Linked DNA regions of Homo sapiens: region 1 is linked to region 2. A link means that fine-mapping ties the variant in region 2 to the expression of a gene that starts in the linked region. Tissue or cell type: left ventricle. Region 2 holds a variant in brackets; the other region holds the start of a gene. All regions are shown on one strand. Distances are between the middles of the regions.

Evidence for each region. PIP is the estimated chance that this variant, and not a neighbour inherited with it, causes the effect.
Region 1: it holds the start of NME7, and the variant in region 2 is fine-mapped to the expression of NME7 in left ventricle (GTEx, PIP 0.91).

What each region holds. Positions count from the first base shown.
Region 1 is chr1:169,363,502-169,371,501 of GRCh38, reverse strand. NME7 (NME/NM23 family member 7) reads left to right here and starts at 3,705. Exons shown (of 12, transcript NM_013330.5): 1 at 3,705-3,794. The coding sequence starts at 3,792. It overlaps BLZF1 (basic leucine zipper nuclear factor 1), which reads right to left and starts at 3,307. Exons shown (of 7, transcript NM_001320973.2): 1 at 3,160-3,307; 2 at 1,952-2,029. The coding sequence starts at 1,979. RefSeq lists enhancers at 2,728-3,227, 3,486-3,565, 3,228-3,729, 2,669-3,868.
Region 2 is chr1:169,199,111-169,207,378 of GRCh38, reverse strand. The region is part of intron 10 of NME7 (NME/NM23 family member 7); the gene reads left to right. Among named protein-coding and RNA genes, the nearest start is that of ATP1B1, 97 kb to the right of the region's middle. The variant G/AG (reference allele first, on the strand shown) is at 5,080.

The sequences.
Region 1 (8,000 bases), 160 kb before region 2:
ACTAACATCAGATGACAGATTAAATAGAAATATGGCTAATAGAATTATTTTCCTTACTGGATAATTAAGATCACACAAAATAATGTTTGTTAAAGTGCCTTATAACTCTAATCCTCATTAAAAACAAGTAATAATAAATATTAAAAAGTAATTTAATTTCACAGAGAACTTGCCAGTACTTCTAATGACTAATCATAATATTGTATTTAGTTTTTGCTTTTTGACAAGCACCATGTTGGTTGCTTTCACATTAATTATTTAACTGCTCTTATTTCCCATTAATCCCCAGTTTATTACTTTCATTACAGTCTCTGACTTGCTTATCTAATGGTATAAAAGCCTTCTGGTGACTTATGAAATGCTGTTGCAAAGCTGAATTAAATTCAATTAAATATTTATTAGCATGATCTTTCTTCCTTGTTTCTTAAACTTATTTCAACCTGCTTTTAGAGAGGGTTTGTGGCTGGAGGTCAGTTTGCTGAAAAATTGGCATCTAGAAAACAGTTTTCCATCTTTAACTGATGGTTCTAGCATGCAGAACTCAACCCATCCAAAGAATAAGCTGGGTCAGGAGAAGTTCACTATGGGACATGTTAAAATTGTTGCCTACAGCTATGTGAAGATGGCCAGTAGGCAGTAGTCTATAAGGGTATGAATCATAAAGAAGGAGATTAGGGATATAGATAGATTTGGAAGTCATTTATATAGATAATTACTGAAGTCATGAGAGTAGAAAAGAAACAGTGGTGGAAAGTGTTGATATTTAAAAGATAAATAAGAAGGAGAAGAGGCTGAAAAAGAAAGAGAGAAGATACAGCTACAGCAGGGCTGTCCAACAGAATTTTCTTCAATGATTGAAATAGCTACTCGCCATATTTGCCTACCGACCACTTGAAGTTTGGCAAGCGTCATTGAGAAACTGAATTTTTAATTTTTAAAAAATATTAATTTAAATTCAAATAGCCACATGTAATTACCGCATTGGACAGTGAAAGGCTACAGAGTAGACTGAAAATAAAAGTGATGTCATGGAAGTCATCAAAAGAACGTATCTCAAAAGGCAGGGAATGGTCAACAGTATTAAATATTAGAGAGGACAAATCAGCTAGGACTAAAAAGTGACTACTGTATTTAGCAATTTAGGGGTTGAATTGTGTCCCCCAAATCTTTATTTGTTGAAGTACTAACCCCCCACTACCTCAGAATGAGACTTCATTTGGAAACAGGATCACTGCAGATGTAATTAGTTAAGATGAAATCATACAGGAGTAGACTGGGTTCCTTTTTTCAATATGACTGCTGTCTTTATAAAAAGGGTAAATTTAGACACAGAAACATGCACATAGGGAGAATGCCATGTGAATATGAAGGCGGAGATAAGGGTGGTACGTCTACAAGACAAGGAGCACCAAAGACTGCCAGCAAGCCACTGGAAGCTAGGAGAGTGTCTCTAATGCCTTCCGAAGGAGCACAGCCTTGTTGACATTTTCATCTTGGACTTCTAGCCTCCAGAACTGAGAGAATACATTTTGTTGTTCAAGCCATGCAGTTTGTGGTACTTTGTTACAGCAACCCCAGCAAACTAATACAACATGAAAGAGATCTTTGATACACCCTAGTTGCTTTGTCTATCTACTTAAATCTTTAAAATGTGTATTCTTATTTAAATCGTAATCTTCTAGTGTATAGGGAATATAGCTGTTAAAAACTTTGCATTAACATTAAATGTTTAAGAGTAGTCACCTAATAAATTCTAACTAATGATGTTAAATTTCACTTGTACATCTAAAGTACTGAAATATAAACACTGCACTAAAAAATAAACATAAAGGGATCTGAAATAACAAATGATTCCCAAGGGGGTCCATGAGATCTAGTTATCTGGCTCAAACGTTCCTTCACATCGTCATAAATGTCATGTTTTAAAAACAATTATAAAAAAGCCACTTACCTTTGGTTTCTAAATTTTTAGTAGTCATTTTTTCACCTTAACCACTGAAAATGCACTCCAAGACTTCTGCTGAACAACCTAGAAATGTATGCATATGAAATAATTTTAAAAATATCATATAAACACATAGAGTACCTCCAATTTAAAAGTTATGATATTTTAATTGCTTCTGTATTTAGTACGCATGCATTTAGAAAGAGAAATGTCCCTTATATCCCATTCTCACAGAAGGCATTGTTATGTCTACTAAAAGTCTCAAAAAAAAAAATTAGGGGTGGTTTACTTCTAAATACTCCGTTTCACCATCCTCACCAATACACTCTAAATTGTCAGAAGTATGTCCTGAATTTTAGCCAAGCAAAGGGAATGAAGTTACTGTGGTGGTTTTGTCATCCATATGACAAGAGGAATTTTAAAGTAATTACTTTCTTAGGAGACATACCGACACAATTTGTATACACACACACACATATCAAAAAGGAGCTTCTGTTTAGATGTTTAACAAACGACAAAAAATATTACTCAAGATAACATAATTTATACTTTTTTGGTAATAAAAAGTTAAAATTAAAATAGTGTAGCTCCAAAAGTAAAAAGAGAAACATATCGAGCCCATGCTTTCAGAAATGTATACATTGTCTTACAGTACAGACTCAGATTTACCAGAGAACATATAAGAAGGTGATGCTACTGCAATGATATAAATATGACAAACTGTACACTAGATGACAACTGGTTTCACTACAAAAAAAGATCGTTCTCAGTACTAGATACAACTCAGTTCAATTAGTGAACCCGACGACTAACTTTCTTAACAGTCACAAACTTTTCTACACTTACACTCTACTGCTCCGAAAAGAGGTATCCAAAAAACCCTTCGTAAGAGTAACGATCCCTGAAACTGCCCTTGATAGCTGCTCTGCGAAACGTACAGGCACAGCGAGTGCCTGCTGGCAAATGCCAAATGAAGCGGAGGGGGTGAAGAAGTAAGTAGGGGGAGTGAGCAGGTATGAAAGCGATAGGCCGGGAAGCGACAAGCCTGTCAACTTTGCTGTCCGGGGAAGTCGAAACCTAAGTTTCATCCCTGTCTGAAAAAGTCTTCCCGGAACAATCTTTCCCTAAATCCAAAGCTACTGGCCACCGAGCTCCAGCCAGACCTCCGTCCCTTTCCAACATCCTTAGTTATACCTGCTTGTCCTCGGATTTACCTCTAAGATTCTTATTCTCCGTATTTCAGGGGGCTTCACTTGATAGGCTCTTCGGATCGGTATCACCAGGTTAACTTCTCACAGACCTCTTCCATTCGGAAGCCGACCCGCCCAGTCCCTCCGCATATCCAGCAGCTCTCTCACTCCTAACCACTTCCGATTACTCAGGGTTTCGCTTCCGGAATACGTTTCCAAAAGAGCAGGGTAAACAAATTCTGCAGTGCGTATAAACTCAAGTAACACAGAACACACACTGTAAGGCCTCCGTAAGTGAAAAGCGGACAGATTTCTACTTTAAAATAAAATACCGTACAGCAACTTTTGGAGCCCAAGCCGCATATTCACTTAAACTTCCGGGCCAGCTGTTAAACAAACGGAAGTAAAACTGCCGGAAACAGAATAATGGCGTCTCGTAGCCCCAGGCGACAGCGTGGAGGGGCGGGTCTGTCGATTGGATGAACGCAGCTGAGATTACTCCCAGCCACTAAGGACGAAGAGGTGGGGCGGTGGCGTCCCACGCCTCGTGCGACAGTGGGCGGGGCTTTGTTGCCTGAGTAACCGTATGATGGTGGTGGTGGTGGTGTCTTCCTGTCTCAACGATACCTATTTTCTAGTGCTGAGATCCTGAGACAATGGTGAGTGCCAGGGGATGCCAGAAGAACGGCTCTGGGGTCCTACTTACTTAGCTTTCCAAGTCTTCGGGCGGATGGGCACTTAAAGTTGTCCGGTCCTCCCGACCTTCTCCCCGTTATCTCTTTCCCCCTTCCCACGGGCTGTTCCTGCAGTCTCCTCGCTCTCCGTATTTCTTACAGCACCCTGAATTCCACTAATGTTACTAAGTCTCTAGAGTAATGAAACAGAAAATTTAGGGTAAGGCATCGAGTCTAATAACCTGTTTTGAACAAACATTATGTGTTTGCATTGTTCATCATGGCATTTTTCATGTTCACAGATTCACATTAACGCGCTTTATTAAGAGTATGGGGTGGTGTGTATGTGACTGTCTCAACACTGATCTGAATCTCCCTAGATCTTGGAGTCTTTTTGCTTTTCTGAGTGGCAGAGCACTGCCCCACGCCCCCACGAGGGCCATTAACAGGTGTATGTTGGATCAGCGCTCTTCTATCCAGTTGGTTACCTTCTAGGTCTGTGCTTGCTTTTCTTTTCTCTTTTCTTTTCTTTCTTCTTCTTTTTTTTTTAAACAGAAATTTCTCCTGGGATTGCTTGGAGAGCTTCTGGAATTCACTGTTTGGGCTTCACCCCTGGAAATTCTGAATGAAAGGAATGGAGCTCGGTATTTGCATTTTAAATAAGCCTATAGGTTATTTTAATTCACCCCTATGTTTGAGAGGGTTCTAGTTAATTCACTTAACTACCATATCTTTTAAGCACTTATGGATAACGGACTGGAGGATAGAAAGATCTTTAGATAGTTATAGCTATGAATTTAGAAACAGAGCCCTCACCCACCACCCCTTGTTTCTTCATACTACTCAGCAATCCTTTTGGTTACCCCAGTTTTCCCCTGACCCATTCTCTGTGAAGACATTTTCAAACCTTCCCTTTACAAACCCTGTCTTTTGCCCTCTTCATTTCTCCTTTCTAAACATGATGGAGTATAACAGGCCATTTCTTCAACCTCATGCCCCCAACCTACACATTGCTCTATATTTTTGCCGAGCCTTTAGTCTTGTATTTCTAGTGTAGAGAAAGGGATATTAAAGGATAATCCATCCATCTTTGCTCTTGATCTCATTTGCTTCCATCTGTTACATTTCGCTTCCAGTTGTTTTTTTCTTTCCTGTGCGTTCAGCCTTTTCCTCTCCAGTTTCTTCTCTTCAGTGCTCAAGTCACACATCTTATGAAAATTAAATAAAGCAAAACCATGTCCTCCATCCTGTGTTTATCCAGTTATTTCCTAGTCCTCCTATCTATCAGTAAACTTCTTGAAAGGATATTATTTTTACTTATATCAAACAGACAAAAGTCTTCTGTCTGGCTTCTTTAATGGCTTCAAGAAAGTTGTTCTTGCTTAAGTTTCTAATGGCCTTTTAAATACCAAATACAGTAATTACTTCTCAAAATTTACATTACTTAGTCTCTTTGTGACAACTGAGGTTCATAGTCATTAATTCCTTTTACTGGCTGTGCCTGGTTTTTGAATGTCATTCTTTGGAATTAACTCCTTGATTACTTTCATTTCTTAGTCTAGACATTTTCCTTGGGTGATTTTGTCCACTCACATGGATTCTACTAACACCTTTGATTTTGCTTCTAAATTTCAATTTTCCTCTCAGATCTACTAATGCCTAACTCAGTTGCTTCCCGGACACATCTGTCTCAAATGTCCTTCAAACTTAATATGACCAAAACTGAACTTGCTATCTTTCCTCCTGGTTTCTCCTATTTTCACCAAGTTAAATAATGCTACTACTATATTATAACCTAAACTAGAAATCAGAGTTATCCTACATTCCTCCCTCTTCTATTTCTCCCATATTCAGTTGTTCACTAGATCAAATTTTAGTTTGTCATCTCCTCATTTCGTGATTATTTTAATAGTGACTTTTACAGTCTGGTCTGGAAATTCTCCAATCCATTATTTTCTCTGCCACAAGAAGGAATTTTTAAAAACCCAACCTGTTGATTTACTCACCTCCTTAAAACTCTAGATTCCCTATTTCCTACAGTAAAATGTCTAGAATGGCACACAAGTTCCTCCATGAACAAGCACTTTTCTGTCTAGCTTTTGCCTTTCCCTTTCCATACTTAAAAAAAAAAAATTCTCTTGCCTTTTAGCTACTTGCTTTTCATTGAACATACCAAGCAACTTCAAACTGGTAGTATGCCTCCTCTTTCTACTTTGCACTTGCAATTCCTTCTACACAGAATACTTGCACCCTCTTGTTGCTTGCCAAACTTATTTATTCTCCTATTACAGGCCAACGTGTTCTTCTTGCCCACTTCCCAGAAAGGCCAAACATTGAGAATGCAGGAGTTGCAGCAGAGAAAGAGTTTAATGGAGGCAAGGCAGTTGAGTGGAAGGATGGGAAATATTTCTAAAATCCGCCTCCCTGACAGCTTGGAAGTTGTGGTTTTCAAGGATAATTTTGTGGGCAGGTTGGTAGGGAATGGGCGCTGCTGATTGGTTGGGGATGAATTTATAGGTGTTTCCAAACTGTCTTCCTGTGCTGAGTCAGTTGTCTAGGTGAGAGTCATAGGACTAGTAGAGTCAGTTTCTTGGTATGAGGCATGTATCTGGGTGGCATCAGGAGGTTTGCCAGAATGCAGAAGCCTGGAAAATATCTCAAGACCAATCTTAGGTTTTACAATAGTGATGTTATCTAAAGGAGCAATTGGTGAAGTTACAAATCTTGTGACCTCTGGCTACATGACTTCTGAATAGTAAGAAATTATAGAAAAGCAAGGAACAGTAGCTGGTTATTGCTTACCTATGCCTATATTTTAGCAGATTTTAGGTCCCTCCCATAGTCCTAACCTTGCGGCCTTCTATTAGTCTTACAAGGCTGTTTTAGTCCCTAGAGGGGGTCAGTTTTGGAAGGGACTATTACCATCCTTGCTTCAAAGTTAAACTATAAATTTCTCCCATAGTTAGCTTGCCTATGCCCAGGTATGAGCAAGGGCAGTTAGCTTTGTGAGGTTAGAAGCAATATGGAGTCAGTTAGGTTAGATTTCTCTCACTGTTATAATTTTTGCAAAGGTGGATTCACTTCCAGACCCAGTGTAGGTGTCTTTTCTGTGATGCCTTCCTTCCCTACTCAAAGAGGGTTGAGTCGAGTCAGGTGCGGTGGCATATGTGTGTAGTCCCAGCTATTGAAGAGGCTGAGGTCAGAGGATTGCTTGAGGCCAAGAGTTCAAGGCCAGCCTGAGCAACATAGCGAGACCTTGTCTCTAAAAAAGTATAAATAAATACAAATTTAAAATCTATGCAGATATTCAGAGCTTTCCCCTCCACACTGTGAAATCAAGAAAAAAAGAAAAAGAGGTTGATTGTTCATTCTTTTTGTCACCATTTTATGTAGTATACATCTCTCCTATTGTACTTGCCTCATTCGGTTGAAATTATTTGTTTATAGATCTGTCACTCTTACTAAAATGTGAACTGTTGGAGGAATTCATGCTTATGTTGTTCACAGTATTGCCTAGATCATATTAGGCACTCAAATGTTTGCGGAATGAATACAAAATAAGAAAGAATGCGCTAAGTGGTCTGAGAGAATACAAAGTAATAGGGGGCAAATTGTACAATTGAGTCCCTGCTTCTCAGTCAGAGTCAGAAAAGTTGTCATGAAGAAAATGGAATAGAATTTCAATAGTTAGAATTCTATGACCTGTGCAATGGCATAGGGAGGTAGAAAGTGACATTTGCTCAATACTGTTTTTGGTTTTTGCCTGTCTTACATTATGTTATCAAACTTCCCAGGAATGCTAAGGGCAATGAATGAACTCCTGTTCCCACTCCTCCTGCCGGGATTGCAGGCTGGGGCTCTTTCAAATTAGGTGGTCAATGAAGGCCTCTCTGTGGAAAGAACTTTTATATTGAGACCTGCATAATATAATACAAAGTGCAGTGATCTGGAGGAGTCCAGGCCACGCTAACAACAAGATCAAATACCCTGAGGCAGAAAAGAGATTGGTATATTTTAGGAACTTATGGTTCAATGTAATAAAATAATAGAAACTGGGTGGTGGGATGGTGCAGGGGTGGCTGCAGTAGGGAAAATATGGTGCAAAATACCATGAAATGTGGTTAGGGAGGTAGGCAGAGGCCAGACCACACGTATACGTACAGCAGTGTTTCTCAAACTGTACCTGATGAC
Region 2 (8,268 bases):
TCTCATATTGAAATGTGATTCTCAGCATTGGAGGTAGGGCCTAGTGGGAGGCATTTGGGTCCTGGGGGCAGATCCCTCATGAATGGCTTGGTGGCATCCTCAGGGTAATGACTGAGTTCTCACTGTGTTAGTTTCCTTGAGAACTGTTTGTTAAAAAGAGCCTGGCATCGTTCCCTTCTTCCTCTTGCTTCCACCCTTACCCTGTGATCTCTGCATGCCACTTCCCCTTCACCTTCCACCATGAGTAGAAACAGCCTGAGGCCCTCATCAGAAGCAGATGCTGGTACCATGCTTCTGGTATAGCCTGCAGAACCATGAGCCAAATAAACCTCTTTTCCTTATAAATTACCTATCCTCAGATGTTTCTTTATAGCAATGCAAACGGACTAAGACAAGGGGTCTGTGAACTTGGATGAGAAAAAAAGAATCGTGTTTATTTTCACTAATATCTGACTGAATATTAGAATTCCATAAATATAAACAACTAATCACTGTTATAGCTATGTGTTAATATAGTAGTTAACTTAGCAACCACCAGAAATTGCAAACATTTTCACATTGCATTACAATTGTACATATCTTAAAACATCATTTACAGTCATTGCTATTTTAAAATTATAAGAGTTATTAAATCAGCTGCTACATTTTAATAAATATGTACATTATATCACAAAATATAAAATATTCTGATAATTTTATTTTAGAGTAATTAATTTCCTGCAATTCTATGTATTTTATGCATTTAAAAACATTGCTTTGAGAAGGGTTCATAGGCTCCATCAGGCTGCCAAAAGAGGTTCTTAACTTTGTCTTTGCATAAGACAAAATTATGAACCCTAGTCCTAAAGGAAGATACACAAAGGTCAAATAAGAATCCCTGGAGTTGAAGACCAAGCATTAACCCAAGACAGCTTCTTCCTTTTTATTCCTTGTCCTAGTATTAATCCTCCCTACCCTCCGTGTTCCAGGCCTCTGAGGTATTCCTCCTTGTAAGACTTGTAGCCATCCATTCTTTTTCAGTCTCTCAACATCAGCTCCAACTTCCATATAGATATTTGAATTAATTAATTAGTTAATTCATCAAATATTTTCTGGGGACTTACTACATACTAAGTACTATTCTAGATACAGTAGAAATACAGTGGCAAAAGAACAAACAATAAAATCTATCTTCACAGAGGACGTTCTAGTTGGGGGGAAACAGATCAGGAGCGGAATAAATAAGTAAAATATATAATATGATGGTAAGTGTGTAGGGGAAAATAAAGCAGGGGAGGGAAATAGGGTTTTCCAGAAAAGGGAGGGATTTATAGTTTTTAAGTAGAATGGACAGAGAAGGCTGCATTTAAAAGTTAACATTGGATACAGACTTGAAGGAGATGAGGGTGACAGTCACCTAGCAATCCAGGCTGGAGGAACAGCAAGTGCCAAAGCTGGAGTATGCTTAGTATATTGGAAGAAGTCAGGAGGACAGTGTGGCCAGAGTGGAGTGAATGTGTGAGGTGAGGTCAAAGAGATACAGGATGGGAAAGAAGATCACATAGAGCGTGGAAAGCTGCTGAAAATACTTTAGCTTTTACTCTGAGTAAGAAGGGGACCATTGCAGAGTTTGAGCAGAGGACCAACATAACCTAACATGTTTTAACACAATAATGCTGGCTTCCATGTGGTGAATAGACAAAGTGGGGCCGGAGCAGAAGCAGGAAGAATGAATAATGAATGCCAGTACTTGACATGTGGTGCTTTGCAGTGGGCTCTAGAGCCAGGCCGCCTGAGATTCTTCATCTGTAAAATATAATCTGTTTCTTCACCAATAAAACGGAAAAAGAATAAGCCGGTTGTGAGGATTATATCAGCTAATATGGGCAAACTTCTTAGAATATTCCATAAATATGGATTTTTCTTACTTTTCTCAGAGCCTAGGATACATGCTGTGAGGGTACCACACAACTATTTGACACATAATGGGCAAGATGGGAAGACTTGAATGAGTTTTGGGCAACCTTGTTCCTATGTCTTGATTTTAGGAGAGTAATTGAGGAAAGGAAGCACCAGATGTTGCCTTTAGATCTGGAACCTTATTCTTTTCATACATATATGTGATGATGGTGCTAAAGCTCAAATTACATAAGATCATGGGAAAACAATTGACACTGACTCTGATTATAGAAAGTAGTGAATTAGTAAATGAAAAAACTAAAAGTGTGGTTATAATAGTAAGTATTGTTTTTTAAGTAAACTGCAACATTACATTGTCAGTTTATCCTAAAGAACAATAACATAAGCATACTATTTTGCTAGACTAATTATTAGTGTGACAATAGTAAATATATATTTATAGGCTTCCTGCTTTGGTCTTATAGAATAATCTTATAGTTGATCAAAAAATTAGATGGAAAACTGTTTTCAGTATGAGATGTTGGGCCATCCTTGTTTTATGACCTTCAAGAAAGAAAAGAAACTTCCAATGGAATTACACCATCTGTAAAGATACTAAGCTTGCCCAAAGAACACAGATAGCAAATTTGAGAGCTTTGATAAGAGTTCAAAATTGAATAAAATTGAGTCAATAATTATTTATTGAAATGTAGTGGTAGTCAAGGCATTACTAGATTTTGCTTGCAAACTGTTGTAAGAAAAGATAAGTTTACAGACAATGGCAAAATAAATCTGACAGTAAGATAAATGCTTTAAGAGAGATACAGGTTGTGAATAAGATTTTCAAGGAAAGTGCTTACATCTCTGGAGTAAGTGCGTAAGGTTTCCGAGAGAGTGCGACATCTGAAAGAAGGTGAACCCTGTGGAATACTTAGAATTTCTATAATCTGAAATGGGAATCTGTACTTTTAAAATGAGAGATTATGTCACATAGGCATTGAGATTGCAAGGCTGAGTAATTTAGTTTGAAGCATTGGATATAGTATAATAGTAGACAATAAAGCTAGAGAGATATTAGCATCATAATGAGTCCAAGGCTGGGAATTTTGTTACTTAATAAACATGAAAAACCATTGAAGGTTACTGACAAAGTAGCACTGTCATGTGATCAAAGTAAGAGTTATGTGACAATATCTAGTATGGATTGAGTGAAAGTTTAGGAGGAGAGGCAGCCAGTACTGAGGCATTTGAGAAATAAAAATAAAATCCCAAGCTCCCTACTGACTGAACAGATCCCTCACTTGGACAAGGGGACCCCAGAGAAACCTTAAAAGCTAAATTCCCTGGCCTGGTGTGGTGACTCACTCCTGCAATCCCAGCACTTTGGGATGCTAAGGTGGGAGGACTGCTTGAAGCCAGGAGTTCAAGACAAAACTGGGCAACATTGTGAGATCTTGTCTTTTCAAAAACTGAAAAATTAACCAGGCATGGTGGTGCATACCTGTAGTCCCAGCTACTTGGGAGACTGAGGAAGGAAGATCACTTGAGTCCAGGAGGTCAAGGCTGCACTGAGCTTTGATCAAACTACTGCACTCCAGCCTGGTTGACAGAGCAAGACCCTGTCTCAAAAACAAAACACGAAAATAAACGAGTTCCCAGCCATGAGGGGATGCGGGATCAGACACATCTCATTATACCTACTCCTTTGCTAACCATCATTAGCCTTCCCTAAGGGTTAAAGAGAAACTAGCCATTTTGAAAAACTTGCTCCACTGCTGATATCAACCATATAAACCATTGCTGCCCTCCCTTCTGTAGTTTTGACAGGGCAACCCACCAGCATTCCTTCCTGATTAGAGACCACCAACCACAGAATGGTTCTGGCCATTCTACGGAGACTGAGCACAGAGGGCTTTTATGTCCTCTGCTTTACCTTTTGATTTATAAGGCCTAATTGTAATACATTCAAATGTTAAATCTTCACCCTAGAGTGAACATGGTGTTGCAGTCTCACCAGTGCACCACAGTGTAGCAGTCTCTCATTGTGAGGTATCACCCAGAATTCTTTGTCTCACAATCAAGAGAATTAAGGAGCGTGGACACAAAGAGTGAGGTTGGAGTGAAAGTTTAATAAGCACAAGAAGAAAGCTCTCTGACAGGGAGAGAGGGCCCAGAAGAGGGTTACCATTTGTACAGTTGAATACAAAGACTTTTATAAGAAAACATTGAGGGCTGGGTGTCTCATTTGCATAAGGCATGAATTTCTGGTAGCTCCAGCTCATCCTCCTAATGTGCATACAGGCTTTAGCTTGACTTACTCCATATTTCTTTGTTCCCCTTACTGCACATGTGTCAGGGGATGGAATTTTCCATTGCAAGCCTGACTGGGCAAGTCACTTGTGTAGCCTTTCTTATCAGTGGGGCTGTGGGCATGTCTTAGGCAAGCCATCCTGTGCAGTTCCCTTACCTGTGCCTGCAGGCTGTTCTTTTGTTTGAAAGGATTCAACTGAGGACCCACCCTCCCTGCCCGCCTGCCTGACCAGCTTCTTCCTTTCTCTTCTCTCAATGGGACACATGTTTCATACACATTGGCCTACTGTGCATACCCATGCCATTACTTCATGAATATTCATAGCTCCTCCTATAACCCATTGAATATTTATACTTAGCCAAACTGCTCAGCATAAATTTCTGTTCCCTTTACCCCTCCCTCCAATTGCATGTTTCTGGCTTCTGGCCAGAGATTATGCTTCCTAGCCTGTTGGTATGGCCACCCTTCAGACTACAACCCTTAATGAGAAATAAGCTCTCCTTTTCAAAGTTATTAACCTCATCATTCTTCAATGGACACATTATAGCAGTTTAAGAAGCCATGCTTTAGAGAGATTGCAAAGGAGAACAATTTTATAGGCCTTACTTAACTTCTGTAGGCCTATGTCATCATCTCTTAAACCTCACTGAGTTACTGTGTTAGGCTGTTCTTACATTACTATAAAGAAATACGTGAGACTGGGTAATTTATAAATAAGAGATTTAATTGGCTCATGGTTTTATAGGGAGGCATCAGGAAGCTTACTGTTATGTCAAAAGGCAAAGCAAGAGCAGGCATGTCACATGGCAAAAGCAGGAGCAAGCAAAGGAGTTGGTGGTGGGGAGGGGGGTGCCATACACTGTTAAACCACCAGATCGCCTTTGAACTCA[G/AG]AGTGAGAGCTCACTTATCACCAAAGGGATGGCCCAAGCCATTCATGAGGGATCTGCCCCCATGATTCAAACACCTCCTACCAGACCTCACCTCCAGCACTGGAGATTACAATTCAATATGAGATTTGGGCAGGGACAAATATCCAAACTATCAGTTACTATGTGCAGCAAATGAACTATACATGTAAAACACATGACATAATGTGGGAAACATAGTAATGCTGAAGAAATATTAGCCATCTGGTGATGATGGTGATGATTATGCCATTGTTGCTGCTGCTGCTGCCAGACTCCCCAGATTATCTTACCACATCCATTTTCTTTTGCAAACACCATTTCCCTACCTGCCTTTTAAGTTGTGGTGTTTCTTGGAATTCTGTTTTCAACCTGAACTTTGATATTTTTCTGCATGTCTTCCTTTGATAATTCTATCCACTTTTATGACCTTAACCACCACCAGTAGGCTGGTAACTCTCAAATCTTGTTTCCAGTCTAAGAACACCTCCTGAGCACCAGATCCATGTTTCTAACTGGCTATTAGTATCTCTACAAGAACAATCCTACAGGCAAGCAGATCCCATTCTCCTTCCTTGCAAACTTGCTTCTGTGCTTCTTTTCTTATCTCCATAAATTCATTACCAGCCACAGTCAGCTAAGCCAGAAACCTTGAAGTGTGTCTTTGCTTTTGCCTTTCCCCAACCCATTATAGTCAATCAAGTCCTTCAAGATACCTTCTCACCATCTCGTAAATATTCCTTTCTGTCCATTTCCAGTTCCCCTACCTTAATTGAGATTTTCATCACTTCCCGACTGTTTTATACCATAACCTCCTAATTAGTCTCCATACCTTCAGAATTACTTCACTGCAATTCTGTAACCACACTGCTGCCTGAGTAATCTTTTTAAAATGTAAATCTAGTCATATTATGCCCCTGCTTAACACTGTTCTGTGGCTCCCAATGTCTCCTGAGTAGTTAAAACTCCTCAGACAACACTTTACATGGTCTTGCCCCTTTCTGTCTATGTAGCAGAATTTACTGAATCTTTGTTTTATTTATTTATTTATTTATTGAGACAGTCTCGCTCTGTCACCCAGGCTGGAGTGCAGTGATATTATCATAGCTTGCTACAGCCTCTACCTCCTAGACTCAAGTGATCCTCCTGCCTCAGCCTGCCAAGTAGCTGGGACTACAAGTGCGTGCCGCCACACCTGGCCCATGTTTTAAATTTTTGTAGCGATAGGGTCTCTCTATGTTGCCCAGGCTGGTCTCAAACTCCTGAGTTCAAGGGATCCTCCTGTCTCAGCCTTCCAAAGTGCTGGGATTACAGATGTGAGCCATGGCACCCAGGCTTGAATCTTTGTTTATAATGTCAGTTTTATTATCATTCAGGGATGGTGAGGCCAATGCATCAGATGATTGCCATTGAAAAGATAGCTACAATCCCCAAGAGGACAGTGCACACTGCACATGCAGGGCCACACAGGGAAACATGAGGGTGGGTCAGGAAACAGAAGAATAGGGGGAAATATGGGCAAGAGCTTCTATTGTGATTTCCTTGGGAAGGAATGGGTGAGGAAGGGCTAACAAGTTCAGGATTGGCTAGTTTGAATAATTTCAGTGGACTGTAGGGTGTACAGGGCTGTTCTAAGTTGTCTGACCCTGTCCCTGAGGAAATTAGGGCAGGGGAATATTGATCCAGATTGTAAGAGCCTGATAGAGGAGGTTGGAGTGGATGGGGTCTGACCTGGTTGGTTTGCATATGAAAGGCAATCTCACAGGGGAGCCCTTTATTATCTCTAGAAGATGGCTGGCCTTGGGAGGGACAGTCTCCTCAGGGTCAATAAGGCCCCAGATGTTAAAACATCAGAATAAAAAGATGTGCTTAACACAGTCTCTTACCCTCACTGGCTATGCTCCAAGCAATTCTAAATGACTTGAATTTCCAACCACTCAAGGCTAAATTCCTCTACCCTCTTCCTGGAGGGAAGATATCTTCTTGGAAATAATTGCTTATCTCTTAATTTAATGATATTCTTGGTAAAGCCCTCCCGGATGTTTCCAACAGAATAACTCCCTGCCATGTTTATTGAGTATTGCTTATCACGTTATATAGTGATATATAAAATAAGAATTCTTATTTTACACCTTTTCCCCCACCCCCACCAGTCCAGACCATAAGCCCCTTGAAGAATGGGACCGTCATACTCATTTTTTACTTTCTGGAGTTTGTAACCTAGCAGGGTGCTTGGTGTGTAGTTGACTTTCAGTATATATTTGTTGACTGAGATGAAAAATAACTAATGAATAGGTGAATGAATTAATAATGAATTAATAAGTTCTATATCAGTCATACCTGTGGAAAACTCATCATCATTGAATTTCCTTTATTTCCTAAAACCTGAAGAGTTAGGCCAAAGTCTTTCAGTTTTATCATTTGCACTAAGTTGTCATCAAACTAAATGATTTATGCTTCTCCTTCCAACTCTAAAATTCTGAATTTTGGCTGAGTAAACTTTTAGTACTTTTGGTGAATTATACCTTTTCCTTTTACCTTTATATGGCTTAGAGTTATAATGTGCAGTTTTGAAAGTTGCAGCTCTGGGAAATGTGGTACATGATTTTTATTTTTGTAGACAATAGGAACCAACAAGTATAGCAAAGTGGTTAAGACCCTGGGTGCTGTTGGGCATGGTGAAATACACTTTAGACTCAGCTACTTGGGAGGCTGAGGCGGGAGGATCACTTGAGCCCAGGAGTTTGAGACCAGCTTGGGCAACATAGTGAGGCTCCATCTCAATTTAAAAATAATAATAATAATAATAATAATAATAATAATAATAATAATAAAAAAGACCCTGGGTTCTGTTATCTATCTAAGTTCAAATCCTACCTCCACCACTCAGTAGCTTTGCTCTTGGCAAGTGTGGTATCCTTTGAAAACTTTAGTTTCTTCATTTGTAAAATTGTAATAATAATGATATCTACCTCATGGAATTATTATTGTGAAGAATAAGTGAGATAATTTATGTAAACTTTCTAGAACATAGTGAATACTTAATAAGTGTTAGCTAACATTATTGTCACTCTTGTAATAGAGGTTATTATAATTATCACTATTTAATGATACTCTGCACTCTTAAACAGTATGATACTGGCCAAGGTTTCAAGGTTCAGTGGCCTTATTTGT